7 linked regions of the Homo sapiens genome follow. The protein of the gene in region 7 purifies or fractionates together with the protein of the main gene of each other region. This does not show direct contact. Each region holds a gene or a part of one and is shown on either strand. Other genes may lie near its edges. The genes, in order: CEP97, SKIC3, TBC1D31, YEATS2, CCDC61, BBS4 and CEP162.

Region 1 (3,500 bases), on a different chromosome or scaffold from region 7:
TAGTCCACAGGGATGTTTCCATGGAAGAATACTTCTTTTTCTTTTGAGATGGAGTCTCACTCTGTTGCCCAGGCTGGAGTGCAGTGGCGCAATCTCGGCTTACTGCAAGCTCCGCCTCCTGGGTTCATACCATTCTCCTGCCTCAGTCTCCCGAGTAGCTGGGACTACAGGTGCATGCCACCACGCCTGGCTAATTTTTTGTATTTTTAGTAGAGACGGGGTTTCACCGTGTTAGCCAGGATGGTCTCAATCTCCTGACCTCATGATCCGCCCACCTCGGCCTCCCAAAGTGCTGGGATTACAGGTGTGAGCCACTGCGCCCGGCCCATGGAAGGAATACTTCTAATTATCTTTATTAAATAAACTAAACTTTTTTGGTTAAATTTTATTGTTATTATACTTTAAGTTTTAGGGTACATGTGCACAACGTGCAGGTTAGTTACATATGTATACGTGTGCCATGCTGGTGTGCGGCACCCATTAACTCGTCATTTAGCATTAGGTATATCTCCTAATGCTATCCCTCCCCCCTCCCCCCACCCCACAACAGTCCCCAGAGTGTGATGGTCCCCTTCCTGTGTCCATGTGTTCTCATTGTTCAATTCCCACCTATGAGTGAGAACATGCGGTGTTTGGATTTTTGTCCTTGTGATAGTTTACTGAGAATGATAATTTCCAATTTCATCCATGTCCCTACAAAGGACATGAACTCATCATTTTTTATGGCTGCATAGTATTCCATGGTGTATATGTGCCACATTTTCTTAATCCAGTCTATCATTGTTGGACATTTGGGTTGGTTCCAAGTCTTTGCTATTGTGAATAGTGCTGCAATAAACATACGTGTGCATGTGTCTTTATAGCAGCATGATTTATAGTCCTTTGGGTATATACCCAGTAATGGGTTGGCTGGGTCAAATGGTATTTCTAGTTCTAGATTCCTGAGGAATCGCCACACTGACTTCCACAATGGTTGAACTAGTTTACAGTCCCACCAACAGTGTAAAAGTGTTCCTATTTCTCCACATCCTCTCCAGCACCTGTTGTTTCCTGACTTTTTAATGATTGCCATTCTAACTGGTGTGAGGTGGTATCTCATTGTGGTTTTGATTTGCATTTCTCTGATGGCCAGTGATGGTGAGCATTTTTTCATGTGTTTTTTGGCTGCATAAATGTCTTCTTTTGAGAAGTGTCTGTTCATGTCCTTTGCCCACTTTTTGATGGGGTTGTTTGTTTTTTTCTTGTAAATTTGTTTGAGTTCATTGTAGATTCTGGATATTAGCCCTTTGTCAGATGAGTAGGTTGTGAAAATTTTCTCCCATTTTGTAGGTTGCCTGTTCACTGTGATGGTAGTTTCTTTTGCTGTGCAGAAGCTCTTTAGTTTAATGAGATCCCATTTGTCAATTTTGTCTTCTGTTGCCATTGCTTTTGGTGTTTAGACATGAAGTCCTTGCCCATGCCTATGTCCTGAATGGTAATGCCTAGGTTTTCTTCTAGGGTTTTTATGGTTTTAGGTCTAACGTTTAAGTCTTTAATCCATCTTGAATTGATTTTTGTATAAGGTGTAAGGAAGGGATCCAGTTTCAGCTTTCTACATATGGCTAGCCAGTTTTCCCAGCACCATTTATTAAATAGGGAATCCTTTCCCCATTGCTTGTTTTTCTCAGGTTTGTCAAAGATCAGATAGTTGTAGATATGCGGCGTTATTTCTGAGGGCTCTGTTCTGTTCCATTGATCTATATCTCTGTTTTGGTACCAGTACCATGCTGTTTTGGTTACTGTAGCCTTGTAGTATAGTTTGAAGTCAGGTAGTGTGATGCCTCCAGCTTTGTTCCCTCTTTTTCTATTGATTGGAATAGTTTCAGAAGGAATGGTACCAGTTCCTCCTTGTACCTCTGGTAGAATTTGGCTGTGAATCCATCTGGTCCTGGACTCTTTTTGGTTGGTAAGGTATTGATTATTGCCACAATTTCAGAGCCTGTTATTGGTCTGTTCAGAGATTCAACTTCTTCCTGGTTTAGCCTTGGGAGGGTGTATGTGTCGAGGAATTTATCCATTTCTTCTTGATTTTCTAGTTTATTTGCGTAGAGGTGTTTGTAGTATTCTCTGATGGTAGTTTGTATTTCTGTAGGATCGGTGGTGATATCCCCTTTGTCATTTTTTATTGTGTCTATTTGATTCTTCTCTCTTTTCTTCTTTATTAGTCTTGGTAGTGGTCTATCAATTTTGTTGATCCTTTCAAAAAACCAGCTCCTGGATTCATTAATTGTTTGAAGGGTTTTTTGTGTCTCTATTTCCTTCAGTTCTGCTCTGATGTTAGTTATTTCTTGCCTTCTGCTAGCTTTTGAATGTGTTTGCTCTTGCTTTTCTAGTTCTTTTAATTGTGATGTTAGGGTGTCAATTTTGGATCTTTCCTGCTTTCTCTTGTGGGCATTTAGTGCTATAAATTTCCCTCTACACACTGCTTTGAATGTGTGCCAGAGATTCTGGTATGTTGTGTCTTTGTTCTTGTTGGTTTCAAAGAACATCTTTATTTCTGCCTTCATTTCGTTATGTACCCAGTAGTCAATCTGGAGCAGGTTGTTCAGTTACCATGTAGTTGAGCGGTTTTGAGTGAGTTTCTTAATCCTGAGTTCTAGTTTGATTGCACTGTGGTCTGAGAGACAGTTTGTTATAATTTCTGTTCTTTTACATTTGCTGAGGAGAGCTTTACTTCTAACTGTGTGGTCAATTTTGGAATAGGTGTGGTGTGGTGCTGAAAAAAATGTATATTCTTTTGATTTGGGGTGGAGAGTTCTGTAGATATCTATTAGGTCCGCTTGGTGCAGAGCTGAGTTCAATTCCTGGGTATGCTTGTTAACTTTCTGTCTAGTTGATCTGTCTAATGTTGACAGTGGGGTGTTAAAGTCTCCCATTATTATTGTGTGGGAGTCTAAGTCTCTTTGTAGGTCACTAAAGACTTGCTTTATGAATCTGGGTGCTCCTGTATTTGGTGCATATATATTTAGGATAGTTAGCTCTTCTTGTTGAATTGATCCCTTTACCATTATGTAATGACCTTCTTTGTCTCTTTTGATCTTTGTTGGTTAAAGTCTGTTTTATCGGAGACTAGGATTGCAACCCCTGCCTTTTTTTGTTTTCCATTTGCTTGGTAGATCTTCCTCCATCCTTTTATTTTGAGCCTATGTGTGTCTCTGCACGTGAGATGGGTTTCCTGAATACAGCACACTGATGGGTCTTGACTTTTTATCCAATTTGCCAGTCTGTGTCTTTTAATTGGAGCATTTAGTCCATTTACATTTAAAGTTAATATTGTTATGTGTGAATTTGATCCTGTCATTATGATGTTAGCTGTTTATTTTGCTTCCTAGCCTTGATGGTCTTTACAATTTGGCATGATTTTGCAGTGGCTGGTATCGCTTGTTCCTTTCCATGTTTAGTGCTTCCTTCAGGACCTCTTTTAGGGCAGGCCTGGTGGTGACAAAATCTCTCAGCATTTG
Region 2 (3,500 bases), on a different chromosome or scaffold from region 7:
ATTCTTTCCTATGCATCTAGGATGCCAGCCACTACTAAGAGCAGAAGAAATTATATCTGTTTCCCCAAGTGCAAAATTAATACAACATGTATGTTATAGAATTGGCTTGTCTGTTATTCTTTATGTTTGACATTCTGAGCAATTGCTATATCTAGCAGAATACATAAAATGATCTTCTAAATTTGGCTTCATTTTAATATTACAAAAATAAACAATAAATAATAAGAATAATACGAACCAAGTAAAATATTCCAGTGCTTTTTCTATGTAGTCTACGGCTTTTCCATCAAGATAATCAACTAGAGCTGCTTTTGCCATCATAAGATGGCATTCACCCAAACCTAAAATCAGGTAAGTTTGTCACTGTTATTAAAACATATAAAATAAACACTTAAAATGAACTTCAAATAAAGTTATTGGTGTTATTTTAAAGCACTTTCCAGAAAATAAAACTTAACGGTGTGTTATAAAATTATCTTAAAGCATGATCCTACATTCACTCAATAAGAAATTCAAATGGAAGAATTCTGTTGGAGTAAACATGCACTAGAAGTTATAAAAAAGTTATCTACAGAACCCAAGAATTTCCTTGACTTTGGGCAAGTTACTTACCTGCTAAAACTTTGGCTACAAAAAATGTGGATATTATCTATATGTTACTCTCCATGATATTACTACTTATTAACTATTGTGAAACAAGATATGATCTTTTTATATTAAAATCTGTATAGCAAGCTATACTATAAGAATTAAATGAAATAGTGATTACCTAAAGTTCCTAGTAAAGATTTCTTAAATGTGAGTTCTCCTTCTCTTGAGGAAAGAGTTTTACAAAATTAAAAAAAAAGTTTCAAGCCCTAAGTTATATGTCATATACAATATACTATTTATGTGCTCACTTCAGCAGCACATATACCAAAACCGGAATGATAAAAAGAAGATTAGCATGGCTACTGAGCAAGGATGACACAAAAATTCATAAAGCATTCCTTAAGAAAAACAAACAGAAAAAAAAAACCAGTTTCTTTAAAAAGGAGAAAGAAGGAAATGGAAGAAAGTAAGCATATATAATGAGCTCCCAGCTTTTTTAATACAATCATTACAAATGTAGGTTATATATGGATGGTGGTATTTTATTTTATATTACCAAAAATAACTTAGATAACTACAAAACAATGCAAGTTGTCTCTGAAGTTTAAAAAAAATTTAATGAGCTTGTATAACTTACAAAGTAATTAAAGGTATTAAGATATTCTGGAGACATGATGAATTAATTATCAAAATGTAAGAGTAGGGAAACATGTTTTAGAGATCAATTTTTAGATCTAATAGTTATCATACTGTTTGTCTAAAAGTTAAATCTCTGTCACATTACTATTTATTAACTTGTGAAACAAGATTTGATCTTTTTATATTCAAATTTATATAAGCTATACTGTAAGAGGTTCATATGGATGCTTGCTGTTGACTAAAGAAGTCCTTTTCAAGTTATTCAATACATTTAGGCAGGAAATCTACTCAAGGATTTTATACTTCAGGATCATAAAAGTCAAAGGAGCTACTAAAAATAAATTACCTTTTAAAGCAGGCACATAATCTTCTTTCTTTTTAATGATCATCTGGTATTGAGCTACAGCCTCCTTATATTTGCCTAGGATTTGCTGTATTGCTGCAACCTTAAACACACTGTATATGGATTCTGGGTTCAGCTCACTGGCTTTTGTGAAGGACTTCAAGGCTGTTGTGTAGCCTCCTCTGCTTAAGTATGCTTCTCCTAACGATTCCCAACAATTGAAGTCCTTTGGGTCTGCTCTTAATGCTGCCTGTAAACTAAAATTTAAAAAACCGTAAGAGAACTAAAAGTATGGAACTATCTCCAAATCTGAAAGGAAAATATAAAATAAATAATTCAAGTAAACATATATATCTGTGGCTCCTTCTACTTATAAAAGTGCTATTTAAAGCAGATAAATTTGTTCCTTTTATGATTTTTTTAATGCTAAGAAATGTTATTTTAATTTCAGAATAAGAATAAAATGCTTTTTTTGAAAAAGTGCTGAACAAAATTTCTTTTCCTTGATTATCTTGAAGAACTCGAGTTTTCTATCCTACCAGGACAGGTGTCCATCTCAGTTTGTCACATCAGCCCATAATCCCCCACCAGCAATCCTTTTACCAAACAGAAATACCACAGTTAAAATATGGAAACAATAGGCATGCTTTAAATATCTGATCAAATTCCATTTCCGTGAAAATGCCTGTACTCTAGATACTAACATAAACCAGAAACAATTTTATTTTGATTCAAATACATTTATTTACATTTAAGTACTGTTCAAATCAAATGACTCAAATTGATCATATATGAGCTGCTCCCAATGCCCTTTAAGCTGCCAAATGTCTCCCTTGCCAAAAACAATGTGTGTCAGCAGAACAACAAAGATATGTACCTCAGCTTCTCATCACTAAAATTTCTATTGAGAACTACTATACATATGTATTAAGACTTCAATTCACTAATCTGGCTATCTCCTCAACAACAGGACACCATTTAATCCATCTCTGCAATTCCACTGCCCTGCAAACAATAAACACCAATCAATCATAAAGTAATTTTGTTATTTCTTCTCTCAAAATACAACCTGGTAAGAGACAATTAAAATGCTTAATTTAAGGAACCGTTATGCTTGTCTAACATAGTTTAAATACAATAAGGTGCCTTACTCAGCCACTGCTTGAGAATGCTGACCAGCTTTCAAATAGTATAGTCCTCGCCTAAGCCAGGCCCATTTTGCCGTTCCAGCACTTGCCTTTTGAGTTACTGTTGTTAGGATAGCTAAAGCCATTTCCTAATAATAAGAAAATACTAATATTAGATATATTGAACATTATAAAAAGACAGAACGCTCATGTAAAGTACACAAACATATTTTCATTTCTCACTTCTGATTTTTTAAACTTACACTGGTATACATCAAATTACAGTTTCAACAATAAGTGGTTAGTAATTTAATATCTGCCAATGGAAAAAAACTTCACTTACAGAGGCAAAAATATTTATATTGCACCTATAGAAAAAAAACTAATGATAACTTTCAAGTATACATATATAAAAATATTTTCATTTATATACTCAGGATAAAAAAAACAAAAAGCAAAAGTGATTATTAGACATACCATATCTTCAAGCTCCACACTTAGGTCAACTGCTGCAGCTCCAGATTCAGCATCAGTGTCATCTAATTCAAAGGCTTTCCTATAACATCCACGAGCTCTGTTTTTATCTCCCACTACGTCTCTATAATAATGACCTAAATAGCAGAAAACTTTGCCCATATATGTATCCAGTCTTGCAGCCTTTGAAATAAATATTGATAATAACAGAACATTAAAAGTTCATTTAATGAGTATCTTTACAAATACAGAAGATAAATACACAGATTAAAGAAAAAAGAAATAATTTCATTAAACATACAAAAATATGCCAAAAAATCCTTTGA
Region 3 (3,473 bases), on a different chromosome or scaffold from region 7:
GTAGTAAACGTAATCTGCAATCTGCACTGTTCCAGAGAACGGTTTCTGCGGACAGAACTCAGCGGAAAAAGAAAAACAGAAAAGAAAAAGCAGATTGAACTATTTTACTAAGAAATAACACTTTTTTTTTTTTAGACGGAATCTTGCTCTGTCACCCCAGGCTGGAGTGCAGTGGCGTGATCTCGGCTTACTGCAACCTCCACCTCCTGGGTTCAAGCGATTCTCCTGCCTCAGTCTCTGGAGTAGCTGGGATTACAGGTTCACGCCACCATGCCCGGCTATTTTTAGTAGAGACGAGGTTTCACCATGTTGGCCAGGTTGGTCATGTTGGCCATGTCGGCCAGGTCGAACTCCTGACCTCAGGTGTATGAGGGGTTTTAAAAGTAGGCATGATTTGGCCTCCCAAAGTGCTGGGATTAGAGGCGTAAACCACTGCGCCTGGCCAGAAATAACTCCAAAATAAAATACTTGTAGCAAATGGAATAAGGTCACGAGCTTCCCAGTCTACCAGCATTCTGGCACAAGCACGCTGGCCACTGCTACATTTGCTGCACAGACAAGACGCGAATCAGGTGTGGTTCCTCAGATCTTTTTGTTTCTTTATTTTTTAGAGGCAGTCTCACTATGTTGCCCAGGCTGGTCTTGAACTCCTGGGCTCAAGCCATCCTCCCGCCTCAGTCTCCCAAATTGCTAGGATTACAGGCGCCACCGTGCCCAGCCAGAGCTGAGATCTCACAGCTCCCTCTCATCTGTCCTCCAAAATTCAACCTGCCCACTCCTGTTCAATTCATCTTCCCAAAGGGCTGTGTTGTAAATATTATCTCTGTTCAAACAACTAATGATTACCTTTTGTCTCCAGCAATGTTTCAAACACTGGCTGGGGATATTCACTCGTGAAACTTTAAAACAAAAATCTAGCTCCCTAGTTTCTACCCTAGAGCTACTGACGGAATTATTACTATTATTAGATCTACTGAATTAAATCACTATTGGTGAGGTCTTGAACATGTGTATTTTTTGAACACATATAGGTTTGTATTTTTTTTTTTTTTTGAGATGGAGTCTCGCTCTGTCGCCCAGGCTGGAGTGCAGTGGTGCGATCTTGGCTTACTGCAACCTCTGCCTCCTGGGTTCAAGCGATTCTCCTGCCTCAGCCTCCTGAGTAGCTGCGATTACAGGTGTGTACCACCACGCCTGGCTAATTTTTGTATTTTTAGTAGAGACGGGGGTTTCACCATATTGGCCAGGCTGGTCTCAAACTCCTGACCTTGTGATCTGCCCACCTTGGCCTCCCAAAGTGCTGGGATTACAGGAGTGAGCCACCGCGCCGGGCTCAAAAATGTCATTTTCTTAATGGTAGGTGATTATCTCCTGCTTTTAGGATTAAATGAATCTGATTAAATCTATATACCCTGATTAAGAACATGACTGACACATCATTCAGTCATAAACTTAAGACTTTTGAAAACTGGATGTTTATTAATCAAATTATCTCTATTGGTGAAATTCAGCAAGGTTAAAAAACATACATGGCTGACTGGTCTGCCAAAAAAAATTTAGCACGAAGGGAAGACATCATGGAGGCAGAGGGGCAAAGGTGTAGGAAAACTACCGATGACGAAAGCTTTTCACAGTTTCTTACCTTTCTCTATTTCTACGTAGATAGCTCTCTAAAGATTTTCTATTTTTCTTTCTAAAACAAGGGTAAGGCTGGGTGCGGTGGATCACGCCTGTAATCCCAGCACTTTGGGAGGGCCACGCAGGAGGATCACAAGGGTCAAGAGATTGAGACCACCCTGCCCAACATGGTGAAACCCCGTCTCTACTAAAAATACAAAAATTAGCTGGGCGTGGTGGTGGGCGCCTGTTGTCCCAGCTACTTGGGAGGCTGAGGCAGGAGAATTGCTTGAACCCAGGAGGTGGAGGTTGCAGTGAGCCGAGATTGTGCCACTGCACTCCAGCCTGGCGACAAAGCGAGACTCCGTCTCAAAAAAGCAAACAACCAAAAAAAAAAACAAGGGTAAGTGTGAGAGGGTGAGGGAGAAGTGACAGCTCCCATGATTAGTATCTTTTGTAAGCCAGTTTTAAATATTTAATTCGTGCAGAGTCACATTCTACTCCTCTCCACCTCCCTGAAGTACTCTTGGTGCTATTTGGGACCACTAAATCTCAAGTATGAGCGGTAATGAGTGGTTTTAAGAGTCGGCATGATTTGGCCGGGTGAGGTATAATCCCAGCACTTTGGGAGGTCAAAGTGGCCAGATCACTCGAGGCCAGGAGTTCGAGACAAGCCTGGGCAACATGGCGAAACCCCATCTCTACTAAAGATTAGCTGGGCATGGTGGCATGCGCCTGTAGTCCCAGCGACTCAGGAAGCTGAGGCAGGAGAATTTCTTGAATGCAGGAGGCAGAGGTTGCAGTAAGCCAAGATCGTGCCACTGCACTCCAACCTGGGCAACAGAGTGAAGTTCTGTCTTTAAAAAAAAAAAAAGGTAGGCATAATTAAATGACCTAACCTATATTTTCACTCTTCAAATTTGTGAAATGTAAAAGTAATGCACATAGCATATTCATGAAGCCAAAAATTGGAAAGAATCCAGATGTCCATCGACTGATGAATAGATTAAAAAAATACATAATATCCACACAATGGAATATTATTCAGCAATAAAAAGGAATGAAGTACTGGTACATGCTACAACATGGTTGAATCTCAAGACATTATGCCAAGTACAAGAAACCAGACACAGAAGACCATATATTACATGATTATATTTACATGAAACTTCCTGAATAGGTGAGTGGACACAAGGTAGTTAGTAGCTGCCAGGGGCTTGGGGGAGTGAGTGGAAATGGGGAGTGACTGCTAATGGGTACTGGGTTTATTTTGAAGTGCTGAAAAATGCTCTAAACTTGCTTGTGGTGATGGCTGCATGACTATGTAAGTGTATTTTTTAGTACATGATAATATAATGACATTGAATAATACACTTTAAATAGGTGAATTAGGCTGCGTGCGGTGCTGGGCACGCCTGTAATCCCAGCACTTTGGGAGGCCGAGGCGGGTGGATCACCTGAGGTGAGGAGTTCGAGACCAGCATGGCCAACATGGCGAAAACCCATCTCTACTAAAATAAAACAATTAGCCAGGCATGGTGGTGTAGGCCTGTAATCCCAGCTACTCAGGAGGCTAAGGCAGGAGAATCACTTGAACCTGGGTGGTGGAGGTTGCAGTGAGCTGAGATCGCACCACTGCACTCCAGCCTGGGAGACAAGAGCGAAACTCTGTCTCAAAAAAAAAAAAAAAAGAAAAAGAGAAAGAAAAAAGGTGAATTATAGGGCATGTGAATTATGTATCAACAAAGCTATTATTTTAAAAAGCAATGTATACACATTATAAAAGACTGAAACAAAATAAAACACAGTAAAATAAAAGCTCCTTGTTAACTGTACTCTATAATTTTTGGAAATCT
Region 4 (3,500 bases), on a different chromosome or scaffold from region 7:
AGAGTGTCCTAAGCACTCACTCCATCTCCTACTGGATTGATGTAAGTATAAAACACCTTCATGGGCAATTCAACTGTTAGGAAAGAGGTGTAAGCCTCACACCACAGACTGCAGAGATAGTAATACCTGTTGTGAGAAGCTGTCTGGTATCCAACTGCCAAAGCCTGTCTCAGGATATCATTCACCAGCTGTTCTGTAGCCTACAATGGAAGATGCTGTTATTCTTCAAATGGCCATCTGCTTGCTGGCAAGAAGGGACACATTTAACCCCATCCCTTACCCCAAATGTTTGAAACCACTGCAACTAGGGATTAAAAAGTCCTTAAGAAAAAATTAAAGGCCTCAATAATAGACCATAATGATAAAGGCCATGATTCTGAGAAATTATGAATTGGAGTGATTTTCATTAATCAGACATTATTCTATTTATTTATTTATTTTGAGATGGAGTCTCACTCTCGCGCCCAGGCTGGAGCGCAGTGGCGCGATCTTGGCTCAGTGCAACCTCCGCCTCCCGGGTTCAAGCGATTCTCCTGCCTCAGCCTCCCAAGTAGCTGGGATTACCAGGTGAGCGCCACCAAGCCCAGCTAATTTTTTATTTTTAGTAGAGATGGGGTTTCACCATGTTGGCCAGGCTGGTCTCCAACTCCTGATTGCAAATGATCCACCCGCCTCGGCCTCCCAAAGTGCTGAGATTACAGGCATGAGCCACCGCGCCCAGCCCTAGACATTGTATTTAAGGAAAGCAGTTGTTACGGAGGTATCCCTATTCTTGGAGAGGATCCACGAGGAAAGGAACTGCTGAGCTAGGATCAGGCTGGGGAAGGAGGCTGCGGCATTTTCGTCCCCTTGCCAGGGTCAGGACAGTTGGGGCTGTTTGCTGTTGTGACGTGTACAGAAAACCATAGGCTTTGTCTCTGCCACCTCCTAAAGCAACGAGCACACTGACCACCACCCCCAGAATACGTCTTAGGAGGCACCTGAAACCACATGACTCAGAGGAAACATAACTTAGTCCATTTAAAAATCAGAAGGAAAAAAAACAAAAAAACAAAAAGAGAGAACTTAAGCCCAAATAAGACGAGACATTTTAAAGCCTGTTATCTTTGTTCCTTTTCTGTCCTTGCCCCTTACTCCAAACCGCCTGGGATGCAACCATCCTTCCTGGCTGGCGGCCCCTGCAGGCACCCACCTTCAGGATCATGTCCTCCACCACGGACGCATACACGTTCCTGTGGAGTGCCACGGGCTGCAGGGTGATCCCAATCTGGAAAAGCAGAAGAAAGCCGTTTGTTCGTATCGCTGCTTTAGAAACAGCCTCTCTCCAAACAAGCATACCTCCCTGACATGCAAAGCGATGCCTGGTTGGAAGGAGGACTCTGCAAACATATTGGGCAAAATTCACGGGAAAGGAACACGGAATATAACATCTAGAAGAATGTTATCTTGTTTTTCCACATTTCTGGCTGATATTTAAAATATGACTATAATCCTATTAAAATCTCTCAAATCTCCTTCGTGGGAGAACATGGTTGGGATCTGCCTGGGTTCTGATACGCAATCAACACTTTGAAAGGTCTGGAATCAGACTCCAACGTCCTGTTTGCACTTGGAAACTGCATCTTGCCCATTCTTCATGGCATCCAATGAAAGCACACTGTCTTTCACCTTGGGCCCTGAGCAACTGGCAGATGCTGAAGAGCTGTTAGGCTCCAGCAGGGTGGATAAATACCTCTCTCCTGTATAGTAAGGCAGGTGCACGCCATCTGCACCACAGGCGGGGCACTCAGGAGCTATCAACACATCAGGGGAGGATTACGCGCTGACGTGCAACTCAGAAAGAGTACGACGTGCCTCATGAGGGAAAGGTGCTTCTACTGAGGCAGATGAGAAAAACAAGATGAAGAGTAATCAACCATTTCTATCTAGCCAGCTTTGCTTCACGTCTGCGTTCAACAAGCAATGTTTTCACATGTAATTAGCATTTCTGCCCAAGGGCTCTGATGTGGGACGGTGGGAGCCCTGAGAGCACACCTGGGTCAACCAGGCAGAAGGAAGTCAAGCATCTACGGCACCAGAAGAGTCTGGGTCTGAGTCTGTGTCTGTGAGGCTGAACACCTGGGTCTGGGTCTGTGAAGCTGAACGTCTGAACATCTAGCTCTGAGCTGGTCTGCTGCATGAACTATTAACACCACAACCCCTACCTTCTGTGTGACATCCCCAATAAATTCAGACCCTGGGGTTGGTGGCAGGTAGAACTTGACTTCCTCTTGTTTCTCTTCCTGCTCCTTCTTGATGTTTATCTTCACTGGCTCGGAGAGGCTGAGGATGTCCACCTCCTCCTCATTCTCGGGTTCCCTTTTCTGGAACTGTTGCAGGTCCTCCAGTTTGCGGCAGAGGTTGTCAGCAGAGGAGAATGATGATGGGCACTCTAAATGACAGGCAAGCAGTGTTACAACAGCTGTGGGGCCAACGGAAGAGGACTTTCCGTCTCCAAGAGACCCATGGTCTGAGGAAGGGGGATAAGCATCAGGGGAGCTGACCTTCTTTCCAGTTCTAACATTCTATGGATCTATAATGATGAGAACTAGTAATTCACGAGGGAGAAAGGCATAAACACAGGCATCTTGTGTGTGATCTATGTAAGGTAACTGCCATCTAAGATGAAAGAGTAGGAATTCTCACTTCTGCCACCAAAAACCAGGTCATCCCCCTCCCTCTGAGTATTAAGGACTGACCTGATTTTTCCTCATCTCAAATCTGGAAAATTTAGAAATGCAGAGTGAAGAAAATAAAAAGAATCACCCCTATTCTCACTGCTCAGAGAGCAGGACTGTTAACATTTCAATGTATATTATGGGTCCAGTCTCTAATAAGGTGATTTATACAAAACCTAATCAGGAGTGTGAGGACCTCAAGGCCAGATCTAGGGCACTAGTGCCCTTCCACTTTCTGGATGAGTGTGTGAGGTCCACACCAGGTACAAGATTTAAGGGCACCCAGCTCCTGGCCTTTTGTTTTACTGACTGGGCTCTAACAAGCTCCAGCTGCTCCTCAAGTTATGATGGCTGGGGCTATATCCTGAAAAACCCATCGTAAGTTGAAAATATCATTTTTGACTTAGGATATTTTCAACTTACGATGGCCTTATCTGGACAAGGCCATCGTAAGTCAAGGTATGTGCTGATGCCTACAGCTTTCAGACCATTGTAAAGTCACAACATCAAATCACAGGTCAAACCATTGTAGGTTAGGGGCCGTTTGGAATCAGTCAGATTAAAAGGAAGCCTAGTATGTGCAAGTACTGTGCTTTCCACACAATGTCAGTGAAGCCCGGGGATCATTAACACGGTCTCTGCTCTCCGAGTAGCTTACACAGCGAAGTCAGACAAGCCCTCATGCTGTTGATATTAAGCGCTGCAGGAGATGAGAGAAAGGAGAGGCCATCCTGCATTAGGCTCTCAAGAAGCTTAATGGCAAAACTGGGACTTGCCCCCCCT
Region 5 (3,500 bases), on a different chromosome or scaffold from region 7:
ATCATGTTGGCCAGGCTGGTCTTGAACTCCTGACCTCAGGTGTTCCACCCGCCTCGGCCTCCCAAAGTGCTGGGATTATAGGCGTGAGCCACTGAGCCCAGCCTCAATTTTTTAACCTGGGTAGTTGTTACATGTACGCTGGCTTTATGATAATTTGTGAAACCGTACATTTATATTTTATACTCTTTGGAGTATATTATTTTTCACAACAAGAAAGTTAAGTAGTGGAAGCAGTGGGACTCTTGGGCAGGAGGGACGGGTCCCATCCCAGAGATTCAGGTGTAAGTGGTGTGTCTGGAGGAGTCAGGGCCTGCCCTGGAACTCCTCACTGCTCACAAAATTTTTAAAAAAAGAAAAATAGGCCAGGCACGGTGGCTTACACCTGTAATTCCAACACTCTGGGAGTCTGAGACAGGTGGATCACTTGAGACAGGTCGAGAGTTCGAGATCAGCCTGGCCAACACGGTGAAACCCCGTCTCTACTAAAAATGCAAAAATCAGCCGGGTGTGGTGGCACACACCTGTAATCCCAGCTGCTCAGGAGGCTGAGGCAGGAGAATCGCTTGAACCCAGGAGGCAGAGGTTGCAGTGAGCAGAGATCACGCCATTGCACTCCAGCCTGGGTGACAGTGCGAGACTCGGTCTCAAAAAAAGAAAAAGAAATGGTGAATGTACAGGGCAGCCAGGGCACTGAGATTTTTCAAAGCTCCCGGGCAATTTGAGTGCATATCCAGAGTGAACCACTGCATTGGTTGAAAGGCCGAAGAGAACTTTATAAAAGAGGGAGCCAGCTCTCAACAGCTGAAATCATCAGTCTCAACACCACCAAAGGAGGCATCTTGCCAAAACCTACCCCACATGTGATTAAACCTATATAGGGTTAGCCACCACTTCACTGCAAGTACAGGGGACAGAGAAGGACATTAAACACACCATGGCGATATAATCAGCAAAATCTATTTTTCATTTTTCCATCTGAGTATGCTTGCTAGGGAAAAATTCAGCAAAATCTAGACTGCAAAACTCTACAGGACAAATAACCTGATTTCTTCCACAAATAAGTAGCATGAAAAGTGGAGAGGGGGATATAAATTAAAAGAGATTTAAGAAATACATCAGCCAAGCTCAGTGGCTCGTGCCTGTAATCTCAGCACTTTGGGGGGCCAAGGCAGGTGGATGGCTTGAATTCAGAAGTTCAAGATCAGCCTGGGCAACACAGGCAAACCCTGTCTCTATAAAAAAATATGAAAATTAGCTGGGCATGATGGCATGTGCCTGTAGTCCCAGCTACTCAGGAAGCTGAGGTGGGAGAATCGCTTGAGCCCAGGAGGTAAGGACACAGCGAGCCAAGATCGTACCACCACACTCCAGCCTGGGCAACAGAGCAAGACTGAAAAAAAAAAAAAGAAAGAAAGAAAAGAAAAGAAAGACCTCGACAAACTGCAATGTGCAGCCGTATTTAGATACAGGACGAATTCAAACCACTTGCAAAAAAGACATTTGAGAGGTGATCAGAGAAGTGTAAGTGTGAACGCATACGCAGTGGGTTTCAGATGACATCCTGGAATTTTTGTGAATTTTGTTGGATGTGATGGCAGCACTTATATCCTTATGTGTTAAAGATACACACTGATGCTTTTACAGAGGAGACACGAAGACTGGGATTTGCTACAGGGCAGGGGGTGGCAGTACATCAAACAAGATGGGCAAACGTGGGTAACTGTTGAAGCTGGGGGACAAGTACGTGCAAATTATACTACTGTTTACTTTTGTGGTGCTGGAATTTTTCCTAATAAATCCTTCTTAAAATCCGTGGTTCCCCACACTCTCTAACAAGGAGCTTTCCTTTCTATTCAGCCCCTGCCCATCTGACTTCTCCCCTCCTCTCCTCCTGCCTCCCTCTCCCACAGGCTCCAGCCAGATGCAGTTCTCACCTCCCAGAACCTTCTCTCCCTCTTCTCCTGGCAAGAACGACTCCACTCATCCGGGAAGCCTACCTGCCCCTGACGTTCTCCGCTCTCCCAGCCCTCTATACCTTTCCTTCCTAGCACCAGCCCTGGCAGACCTGGCATGTAGAGGAGTGTCCGTTTCCCATGTGGATCCCACCTTTCTGGGGGCAGAGCCTCCACCTGTCTGGTTCACTGCACAGGACCCCAGGCTGCGTGGCCGGGCGCCCTGCATTCAACTCTATTCCACTTGTTAACAAGCTGGGTGGCCCTGGGCAGTTTCACTTCACATCTCTGAGCCTCAGGCCATCTTTTCTCATCTGTGAAGAGGGACGATAATAAGAATGCCCGCCTGTTAGGCTGTAAGAATCTATCCACAGTGCTTAGACCATGTCTAGCATAATAAACATTAACTAGCGTCAGGCAGTGTGCCTGGCACAGTATGAACTCCATAAATGTTGGCTCAATGAATGAATAAATCTCAGAACCTTCCCAAACTCCCTAATTCCTGGCTGGGAAGAGGAAGATAAGAAGCCACTGAGCAGCGGTGGGATCTCAAGGCTCCTGTGGTTGGTTCCAAAGGGTGGAGGGCGCCCCCTTGTGGCCATCTTGGGAAACACACACCCAGAAACACAAACCTAGAAACACACACACACAGCCTGAGACAGAGCAAACGCGCGCGCACACACACACACACACACACATACACACACACACAGCCTGAGAGCAGATCCTGAGGATAAATTTTGGCCTCCCCACTGCGGCCTTCCTCGGCCCAGCCGTACACAGGCGAGCTCCTCCAAAGACCGGCGGGGTTCCCCAGCCCCATGAGCTCCCATAAGGACTGGTCCTCCGGGTCAGCACTTAGCGCTCTGTCCTGGGCTTGCAGCCACCAACAGTGCAAACAGCTGGGGAAACAACAGAGGCTCGGCGCTGGCTGCCTGGATCTAAGGTCCAGCCTAGCCATATTACCCACTGTGTGACCTGCGCCAAGTTCCCTAACTTCTCTGGGCCTCTGTCAAACGGTGATAATAGCAGTGCCTACCTTGTAGGGTGGCTGTGAGGATAAAATGAATTTAATCATAAAGCACAGAGCAGCCCTGGCATACAGTTAAATGTTCAATAAACATTAGTTACTGGTAACATTATTACTAAAAATATTATTAGTCCTCCCCAACGAGCCAGGCCTCTTCCCGGTAGCGATCAAGCCCCAGATTCGTCTCCCCAACAGAACCAAGCACAAGGCAGGCATGAATATATATGCCAAAGGCCTTTGCTTCTTTCACTTCATTCATTCCCTTGTTCTCACCGCATTCCCACCTAACACAAGGACTTTGCCCAGGCTGTTCCCTCTGCCTACAACACTTCCCCAGCCCCTGGGCCTGACCCACCCTACACCCCAGTGGAGTCCTGTGACAGCCTCCCACAGCACAGGCTCCCTTTCCTGCCCTACTCATCTCCATCTGTAATGATATACTCAAGTGGTTATATACTTAGCACCCATCTCCCCCAGGGCTGGGCACTACGTGAGTGGCAGGGAGGGGCTAGCACAAA
Region 6 (3,500 bases), on a different chromosome or scaffold from region 7:
CCTCTCAAGAACAAAATACAGGGAGGGACTTGTTCTGGATTCCCTTTGGGCAAATGCAGCTGCAATACTCAGCAGGCTTGGCCTCAACTTCCAGGGCTTTTGTTTTTTTTCTTTTAAATGTATACTATTAAAGTTGGATTATTAATCTAATATTTGTGTTTGCCTTGGGGACTAATAAACCTCACAACCTGAGGATCACCTCAGTTAAACCAAGGCTTTGTCATCACAGAGCTACTCAGCAGAGGTCTGTCTCAGCTGTTCCTTGAACTAAGGAAGGAGTCAGTCAGCTAGGAGAGAAAAGTCCTTTTGAAAGCAGACAGCATCATGTACCTTGCTGACTCAGCTACATACATAAGGCCTCAAGCCTTGCTGCCAGTTCTTAAAGGAACTGTGTTCTCTTTTCACTTTTCCTGGCTTATGGGGCAGTAGAGGGTTTCCGACCTCAAATGCCAATACCAGGTAGGTAGAAGGACCTTAGGCTCAACTGCTGGCTCCTCGTAATAACACACACTGTATTCTGTGGTGGGTGCCACTCTGCTCTGCCTGTGTCATGTCACCTTTCCTAATCCAGCACATCCTCGCCCAAGAAAACCCTATTTTGGGGTCATTCATTCTATTCTTATTTCTCTCTTATTTGTTCTGATGTTTCAGTTGGACTTGATTCCACCGCAGGCTCTGGCTCCAGAGGAAGAGATGGGGGCTTTGTGAACTGGGATGTTCCTCCAGCACCTAGTAACAAAATAAAAACTTGAATCCTCATGTTCCACAATTTCAGAAGAAATCATTCTTTTTTGCTGTTAGAGTTCAAGAGGAAACCCCATATTTTCTGGAACCAGTGGGACTGACCCATTAACTATAAGGGAAGACTATAACTGAGAAATAAAGCAACAGTCAAGTTTGCCTTCAATGAGTCACTGAAAAATATTTACGTGTCAACTTCTGATAAAGCAGTAAAAATTAAACATTGCATAACAGGATATACTTAATAACATATTGCTAAAATTGGAAAGACCAGTGTATAGACCATCCAACTAAGTCTGTGAGTAGCTGTTACCTACTACATAGCTCGCCTTAAGGAAACAAGTGCCAATTTAGCCACCCTGTGTTTTTTTTCTCCCCTTGTGGCCAATACTACGTTGGACATATGAGTCTGAAGAGAACCTCACTGAAAGCTATAATCTCTGCTGACAGACACATGTGGCTTGTACCTGCCAGGTCTTCATGGAGCTCTGTATGGTCCTACCTGAGGGGAGCGTCCTGTATGCAGCTGCTGAAGACATTGCCTGTCCTAGAGCTTGATTAGAGCCCAGAGGCTGCTGGAAACTGGCAGGTTTGCTGGTTGAAGTGGTCTGGTGCTTTGATTTGGGATCTTTAACTGGTTTGGTCCAGACCAGTGCCTCCCCAACCTGGAGAGCAGCTCCCAACTTCTGAGCCATCTCCACCATCTTGTGTCCACAAAGGAAGTAAAAGAATCAAAAGCGTGACTGTCAGAGACAAGCCAACCCACTTCTTTGGTCTTCGAGCTGGGGTTTTAGCTGAAATAGTGTCTGGTCGTACTAGCAGTTGAGGCAGGAAGTACTTATCAAACAGTAGAGATTACAGATTGCCTTTACTGGATGGCATGGTGGTTCACATAGGATCTCAAAACCCAACAATTCAAGCCTGGTGCATTACCGGGCCAAACAGTGCATTTCCTACAACAAGTGAAATAGGGCTGGGCACGTGGATCACGAGGTCAAGAGATCAAGACCATCCTGGCCAACATGGTGAAACCCCGTCTCTACTAAAAATACAAAAATTAGCTGGGCGTGGTGGCACGCGCCTGTAGTCCCAGCTACTTGGAAGGCTGAGGCAGGAGAATTGCTTGAACCCAGGAGGCGGAGGTTGCAGTGAACTGAGATTGCGCCATTGCACTCCAGCCTGGGCAACAGAGCGAGATTCCGTCTCAAAAAAAAAAAAAAAAAAAAAGTGAAATAGAAGGAAGCTACAGACAGACACAGACCTCAACTTTGATGAGTTGAATTAGCAATAACAACTCAGTAAGCCTGAATTTCCTTTTATTATTATTCTAGGAAAGTTTTTCTCAGGCTGTTATTAATTGATGAACTCATGCTGCTAGGAACATCAAAGCCAGAACAGCCATGAACGTGTAATACCTTGGATTTGGATGATCTGGGCTTGATTTTTAAAAGTCTCCTGAGAGCTTACTTATGACTCTTGGGAGCTAATAAAAGACATACCTCAGAGTCAAATTCCAGAGAGCTATTGTCCTTGAGTAGGCTGACTTTCTTCTCCATCTCCTGATATTGGGCCAGGGCGTTCTTCTTCTCGCCCTGGTTGTACAGCAGCACAGCATAGTTCAGGTTTACTAAAGGGTTACACCTGTGGCAGACAGAGATTCTATGGAGCTGGGGGCTCTGCAACAAATGGTCATTTAGAGATCCTTCTCATTACACAAAAACAAAACAAAACTGGTTAAGTAGAGATTTCTCCATTATGCAGCAAGGTAGGTACATACGTGCTAAGCAGACCTGTGGAGAAGAATCAAGGAGTTAATGGCCTAACAAGCAAAGCTGGTATTGGGACCAAATCTGGCATCTCAGCCCTCAACAGAGACTACCTAGGCCAGGGTTGAAAAAGGGATCTCTACCCTGCTGTCTAGAAGATGCCAGCGGAGTAAATCCTGGAAGAGTCAAGTTTTATCTTGAATTAAACAGCCCAGAGTCCCATCTGATATTCCAGCTAGCCCATAGCTATCAGCAACCCAAGCCCACTGCCAGTTCTGACATTCTCTAGCCTCCTGATTACTCAGTTTAGGACTGGAAACATTTTCTCAGAGTGTCAATTCCTGCTGAGCCACCACATACTTAGGAGACACATCCCTCCACACTGAGGTCTGCTATGTACTAATGCCATAGAGGAACAGCTGGGCTGACACAGGCAGCACCAATGCTATGTATGGCACCACCTCATGGCTTTGGAGAGTCCAACCCCCGCCAGTACCATTCTCAACAAAGTGCATACTTATCCAGGTGGACTGCTTCTGCGTAGGCTCTCTTGGCATTTTCTATATCTTCCAGATTGGTCAGAGCCACTGCAACAAAGAAAGCACTGCAGCTGGAGAGCTCAGCTTAGAAGACAAAAGGAGTATTAAAGACTACCCCCAAAGTAAACTTCACCCTGTCAGCTCATGGCACCAGAGTTTACTAAGTCAGCTTAGATACCTGGTGCTATCTTCAACCATCTCTTCTACAGTCAATCAGTTGCCAGGTTCTATGCATCCTTTTTTTGCAGTTTCTTTTCTGACACTGCCCTTGTTCAGGCCCAAGTAGTTTTAGGCTTTCCATTTATTCCCCAGTGTCAAAGTCCCCACCTGCCTCCATTCCACCTTCCACAGCGCTGCCAGGTATCTCACTGCCTTACAAATCTGACCACATTACCATCCTACTTAGGAATCCTCACTGGCCCCCCACATCTATAACCATGATCTTTACACTTTC
Region 7 (3,500 bases):
TGAGAAGCTATTAGAGGGAAGAGGTGGCTATGATGTGGCAGGCAAGATTTTTTGGTGTAAACAAGTTTAAGGAACTCGGAAGTCAGGTTATTAGAGGCATTAGCTATGTAGTTAATGTAGTCACCAATAATTAGACAAGAGAATTGGAGACTCACAGTGAAACAGCAGCTAAAATCTTTGAGGAATGAGGAGGAATAACCCGGAGTTCAGTAGATAACTGCAACAAAGAGACACAGTAGATAGGTGGTCTGATAGCAAGGTTCATAAGGAGATTGGAAGAACGGTCTAGAAACAGCAATGAACAATAACCTACTCCTTTTCCAAGTCTAATGGAACAAGAGACGTGGCAAAGAAAACAGTAACCATTGGAGGTTACCAGAGAAGCAGCAGTATTCACAGAGCAAAGTTAAATGTGAATTACAACTCTGCTTTGAAGGAATTATATAAGATTAATTGGGGGGGTATACCAAGACAGGAAAATCCAAGAATATTTCCATGAGGAAGTAACATTTCTGCTAAGATGTGAAGAAAGACCAGGAAATAATTAGGTGAACTAGGCCAGGGAGACCAGAACAGGCAGGGGACACAGTAGGTACAGAAGCATGACAATGGGAGGGGCAGGCCACATTTGCAGATGCAAAAAGGCCAGTGAGGCTGGACCCAGATGGTGAGCGTAAGCCTAAGAGGAAATAAGCCCAGAGCAGGAAGTCAATGGTTGGACCGTGCTCGTCCTCATAGGCCAGCAGAGGGTCTTGCTCTGTATTCCAAGAGCACTAGAAAAAACTGGTAAAGCTATACAGTATCAAAATTTCCTTATTTTAATAGTATATGTTTGTTGTAAAAAACTGATATATGGAAAAGGTAAATAATTATGAGTAATGTTTTATTTTTGTTTTTTGCTTTTTAATATTCTTTTGTTCTTTGTTTTCTTCAAAAACCAGAAGACTGAAAATGTGTGCTATAAATATGAAGATTAGAAAAAATATCACTTTTGGTAGGAGGAAGCCTTATTAAGAAGTCACGAATTTTGACTTCAAGTTCCTAATTTGTGTCCTCTTGGAAAAGGCTAAGAATCAATTTATTTTATGCCTTTCTGTGAATAATGGTTTTACTGGATCAAATAATAACCTCCATAAGTTGTAAAAAATCAAGAGAGAGATTCATAGATGCTTCAAATGAAAAAGTATATGCCAAGGTTGGTGTGCTGTAGTGGCAACATGTCCAGGGTCTCACCCTGGCTCTAAAGCACGACTTGAGGTTGTAGCTCACACTAACCAAGTTCACAAGAGATTAATATAACAGAAACGAAGATCCAGTTTAGTTATTTACAATAAAGAATACAATCAGCAAGAGGATGAGATAGTTTCACCTTCTAAGCCGAACATTTTATTCCTATGGCAACTGGGAAACAAGCAAAATTATAATGTAAAAGCCGCTCACTGTTAATGTTTAATGGTACCTGTCTTAAGATTAATAATGCATTCCTCTTCTCAAGAGGAGTGTTGAATTCTCCCTCAGAAGGTTCTACACTCTTGATACAGGAATCACGTCTTGCCTTTTCATAATAATGCCTAGTATTTAGAACATAATACAAACTCAGTAACCGTTTGCTTGAATCAGGGACCAGGTTATTCCCGTGGGCAGGGAAACCTCCCGCTGTTTAAGCTGACATTGTCAAAGTTTGCTTCTTGACTATCCTTCTTTACTTCTTTTACTAATCAAATCTATTTCTGATACATTTAAAAAAATTATTAATACCATCAATCAGGTTACATGTGAGTATTTTTGGTCTAGGAGCTATTCTTTTCCTGTAGGATTAGGTTGTATATATCTGCTCTGATTCATTATCTTCTAGACAAAAGGCTTTGTGTCCCAAATCTTTGTCAACAATTCCAACAGTACTTCATCTTATAATATCCTTTTCAAGCATTAAAAGCAGGGAGAGAGTCTAAAACATAATTCTTCACTACAAAGTTCAGCATGTTGCATAAGAATTTATAAAAAATGCACTGAATTTTTCAATAAGGAATTTCTTTAAATTACAGTATTAAAAAGAACAGAGAAGTAACTGTCAAATCTACTTTAACATGCATTTATTAAACAAATTTATCATTTAATGTTGAGGGTCAGGGGATACAAGGACAAAGAAGTGTTTCCTACCCTCGCAAAGCTCCCAACCGCAGGAGTTGTCCTATAGGTTACAACTATCAACACAATGTGTAAGTGTTACTATGGTGTTCTGACATCAAAATGAAGGAGAAACTAATTGTGACAAGAGAGCTAGAAGATAGAGTGAAGGACTGCAAAAAGTGGTGATGCTAGGCTTTATTGGGCAAGAAGGATGAGAGGAAAGGCATTCTAATGGCAAGGAAGCATGAGATAATGCACAGAGGCAGGGAGGCCTATGGTGTTTCCAGGAGATGAGGAATGATTACCTATGGCTACAGTACACGAGAAGGCAGGGTTCCAGTCAGATCATGCAGAGTCTTAATTATGACATGAATTCAGGCTCAATTTTCATGGGGAGGGGGGGAAACCAAAAGCCCATATGTATATTTTTTCCCTAGAGATACAGAAATTCTATCATTTTACAAAATTGTGCTTAACACTGATCCACAAATGGTGTGAATGTAGGTACTGAAATAGAAGCAGTCGGGGTTGTTTACAGATGTGGCAGTATCATGTATAGTAAACCTATCAGGCCAGGAGTGGTGGCTTAGGCTTGTAATCTCTGCGTTTTGGGAGGCCAAGGTGGGAGGACTGCTTGAGGCAAGTTCGAGATCAGCCTGGCAACACAGTGAGAGACCCTATCTCTACAAGAAATAAAAAAAATTAGCCAGGCATGTTGGCATGTACCTGTAGTCCCAGCTACTCAGAAAGCCGAGGTGGGAAGATTGCTTGAGTCCAGGAGTTTGAAGTTACAATGAGCTATGATTGTGTTACTGCCCTTCAGCCTGGGCATATCATATACATATATATGAGAGACATATATACATATGGCAGTAAATTTTTTTTTACTACTGTCATTAACAAACTGTGATACCAAGGTCTATAGGTTTGTTAAACTCTTCCCAATGCAATGACATTAATATACTGCCAGAATATCTTATTAAATCACCTTAAATCAATTTATCATTAAACATGATAATAAATATACCTGAATTGTCACCTTAATTTGAGTAAATATAAATTATCTCCATGTAAAATAAGCTGATAATGTTATAACGCAGATTCTCAATTACATAATAAATACATAATAAAGTACTGGTTATATGAAAATCAATTCAAACTTCAAAAATCCACACTATTAGTATTATTTTCTGTATATATTTATAGTGAAGTAACAAAATCCAGAAGTCTTGACTGACCCCTTGTGGTCAAATAATTTGAAACTAAAAATCAGCAACATTTACCATCATCTTTAAAATCATCTTCAGTTATCCACCAAGGCACTGTATCTTTCTTCTTCATCTCTTTTTTAGATTGTCTAGCTGTTTTGT

Evidence for each region.
Region 1: the proteins of CEP162 (region 7) and CEP97 purify together in Homo sapiens (affinity purification with western blotting; one large-scale study listed by BioGRID and IntAct). This does not show direct contact.
Region 2: the proteins of CEP162 (region 7) and SKIC3 purify together in Homo sapiens (affinity purification with mass spectrometry; one large-scale study listed by BioGRID and IntAct). This does not show direct contact.
Region 3: the proteins of CEP162 (region 7) and TBC1D31 purify together in Homo sapiens (affinity purification with mass spectrometry; one large-scale study listed by BioGRID and IntAct). This does not show direct contact.
Region 4: the proteins of CEP162 (region 7) and YEATS2 purify together in Homo sapiens (affinity purification with mass spectrometry; one large-scale study listed by BioGRID and IntAct). This does not show direct contact.
Region 5: the proteins of CEP162 (region 7) and CCDC61 purify together in Homo sapiens (affinity purification with mass spectrometry; one large-scale study listed by BioGRID and IntAct). This does not show direct contact.
Region 6: the proteins of CEP162 (region 7) and BBS4 purify together in Homo sapiens (affinity purification with mass spectrometry; one large-scale study listed by BioGRID and IntAct). This does not show direct contact.

Annotation. Positions count from the first base shown.
Region 1 is NC_000003.12:101,748,614-101,752,113, forward strand, and holds part of CEP97 (centrosomal protein of 97 kDa), read left to right. Parts: intron 1-3,500. UniProt on the Homo sapiens protein: Acts as a key negative regulator of ciliogenesis in collaboration with CCP110 by capping the mother centriole thereby preventing cilia formation. Required for recruitment of CCP110 to the centrosome.
Region 2 is NC_000005.10:95,520,478-95,523,977, forward strand, and holds part of SKIC3 (superkiller complex protein 3), read right to left. Parts: intron 3,358-3,500; coding exon 3,178-3,357; intron 2,850-3,177; coding exon 2,725-2,849; intron 1,831-2,724; coding exon 1,577-1,830; intron 342-1,576; coding exon 239-341; intron 1-238. UniProt on the Homo sapiens protein: Component of the SKI complex, a multiprotein complex that assists the RNA-degrading exosome during the mRNA decay and quality-control pathways.
Region 3 is NC_000008.11:123,145,707-123,149,179, reverse strand, and holds part of TBC1D31 (TBC1 domain family member 31), read right to left. Parts: intron 1-3,473. UniProt on the Homo sapiens protein: Molecular adapter which is involved in cilium biogenesis. Part of a functional complex including OFD1 a centriolar protein involved in cilium assembly.
Region 4 is NC_000003.12:183,805,797-183,809,296, reverse strand, and holds part of YEATS2 (YEATS domain-containing protein 2), read right to left. Parts: intron 2,432-3,500; coding exon 2,205-2,431; exon of another isoform or gene 1,268-2,204; coding exon 1,193-1,267; exon of another isoform or gene 1,185-1,192; intron 568-1,184; exon of another isoform or gene 445-567; intron 201-444; coding exon 127-200; intron 1-126. UniProt on the Homo sapiens protein: Chromatin reader component of the ATAC complex, a complex with histone acetyltransferase activity on histones H3 and H4. YEATS2 specifically recognizes and binds histone H3 crotonylated at 'Lys-27' (H3K27cr).
Region 5 is NC_000019.10:46,008,967-46,012,466, reverse strand, and holds part of CCDC61 (centrosomal protein CCDC61), read right to left. Parts: intron 1-3,500. UniProt on the Homo sapiens protein: Microtubule-binding centrosomal protein required for centriole cohesion, independently of the centrosome-associated protein/CEP250 and rootletin/CROCC linker.
Region 6 is NC_000015.10:72,734,707-72,738,206, reverse strand, and holds part of BBS4 (BBSome complex member BBS4), read right to left. Parts: intron 3,095-3,500; coding exon 3,025-3,094; intron 2,383-3,024; coding exon 2,241-2,382; intron 1,446-2,240; coding exon 1,244-1,445; intron 730-1,243; coding exon 620-729; 3' UTR 1-619.
Region 7 is NC_000006.12:84,217,644-84,221,143, forward strand, and holds part of CEP162 (centrosomal protein of 162 kDa), read right to left. Parts: coding exon 3,414-3,500; intron 1,571-3,413; exon of another isoform or gene 1,460-1,570; intron 218-1,459; exon of another isoform or gene 156-217; intron 1-155. UniProt on the Homo sapiens protein: Required to promote assembly of the transition zone in primary cilia. Acts by specifically recognizing and binding the axonemal microtubule.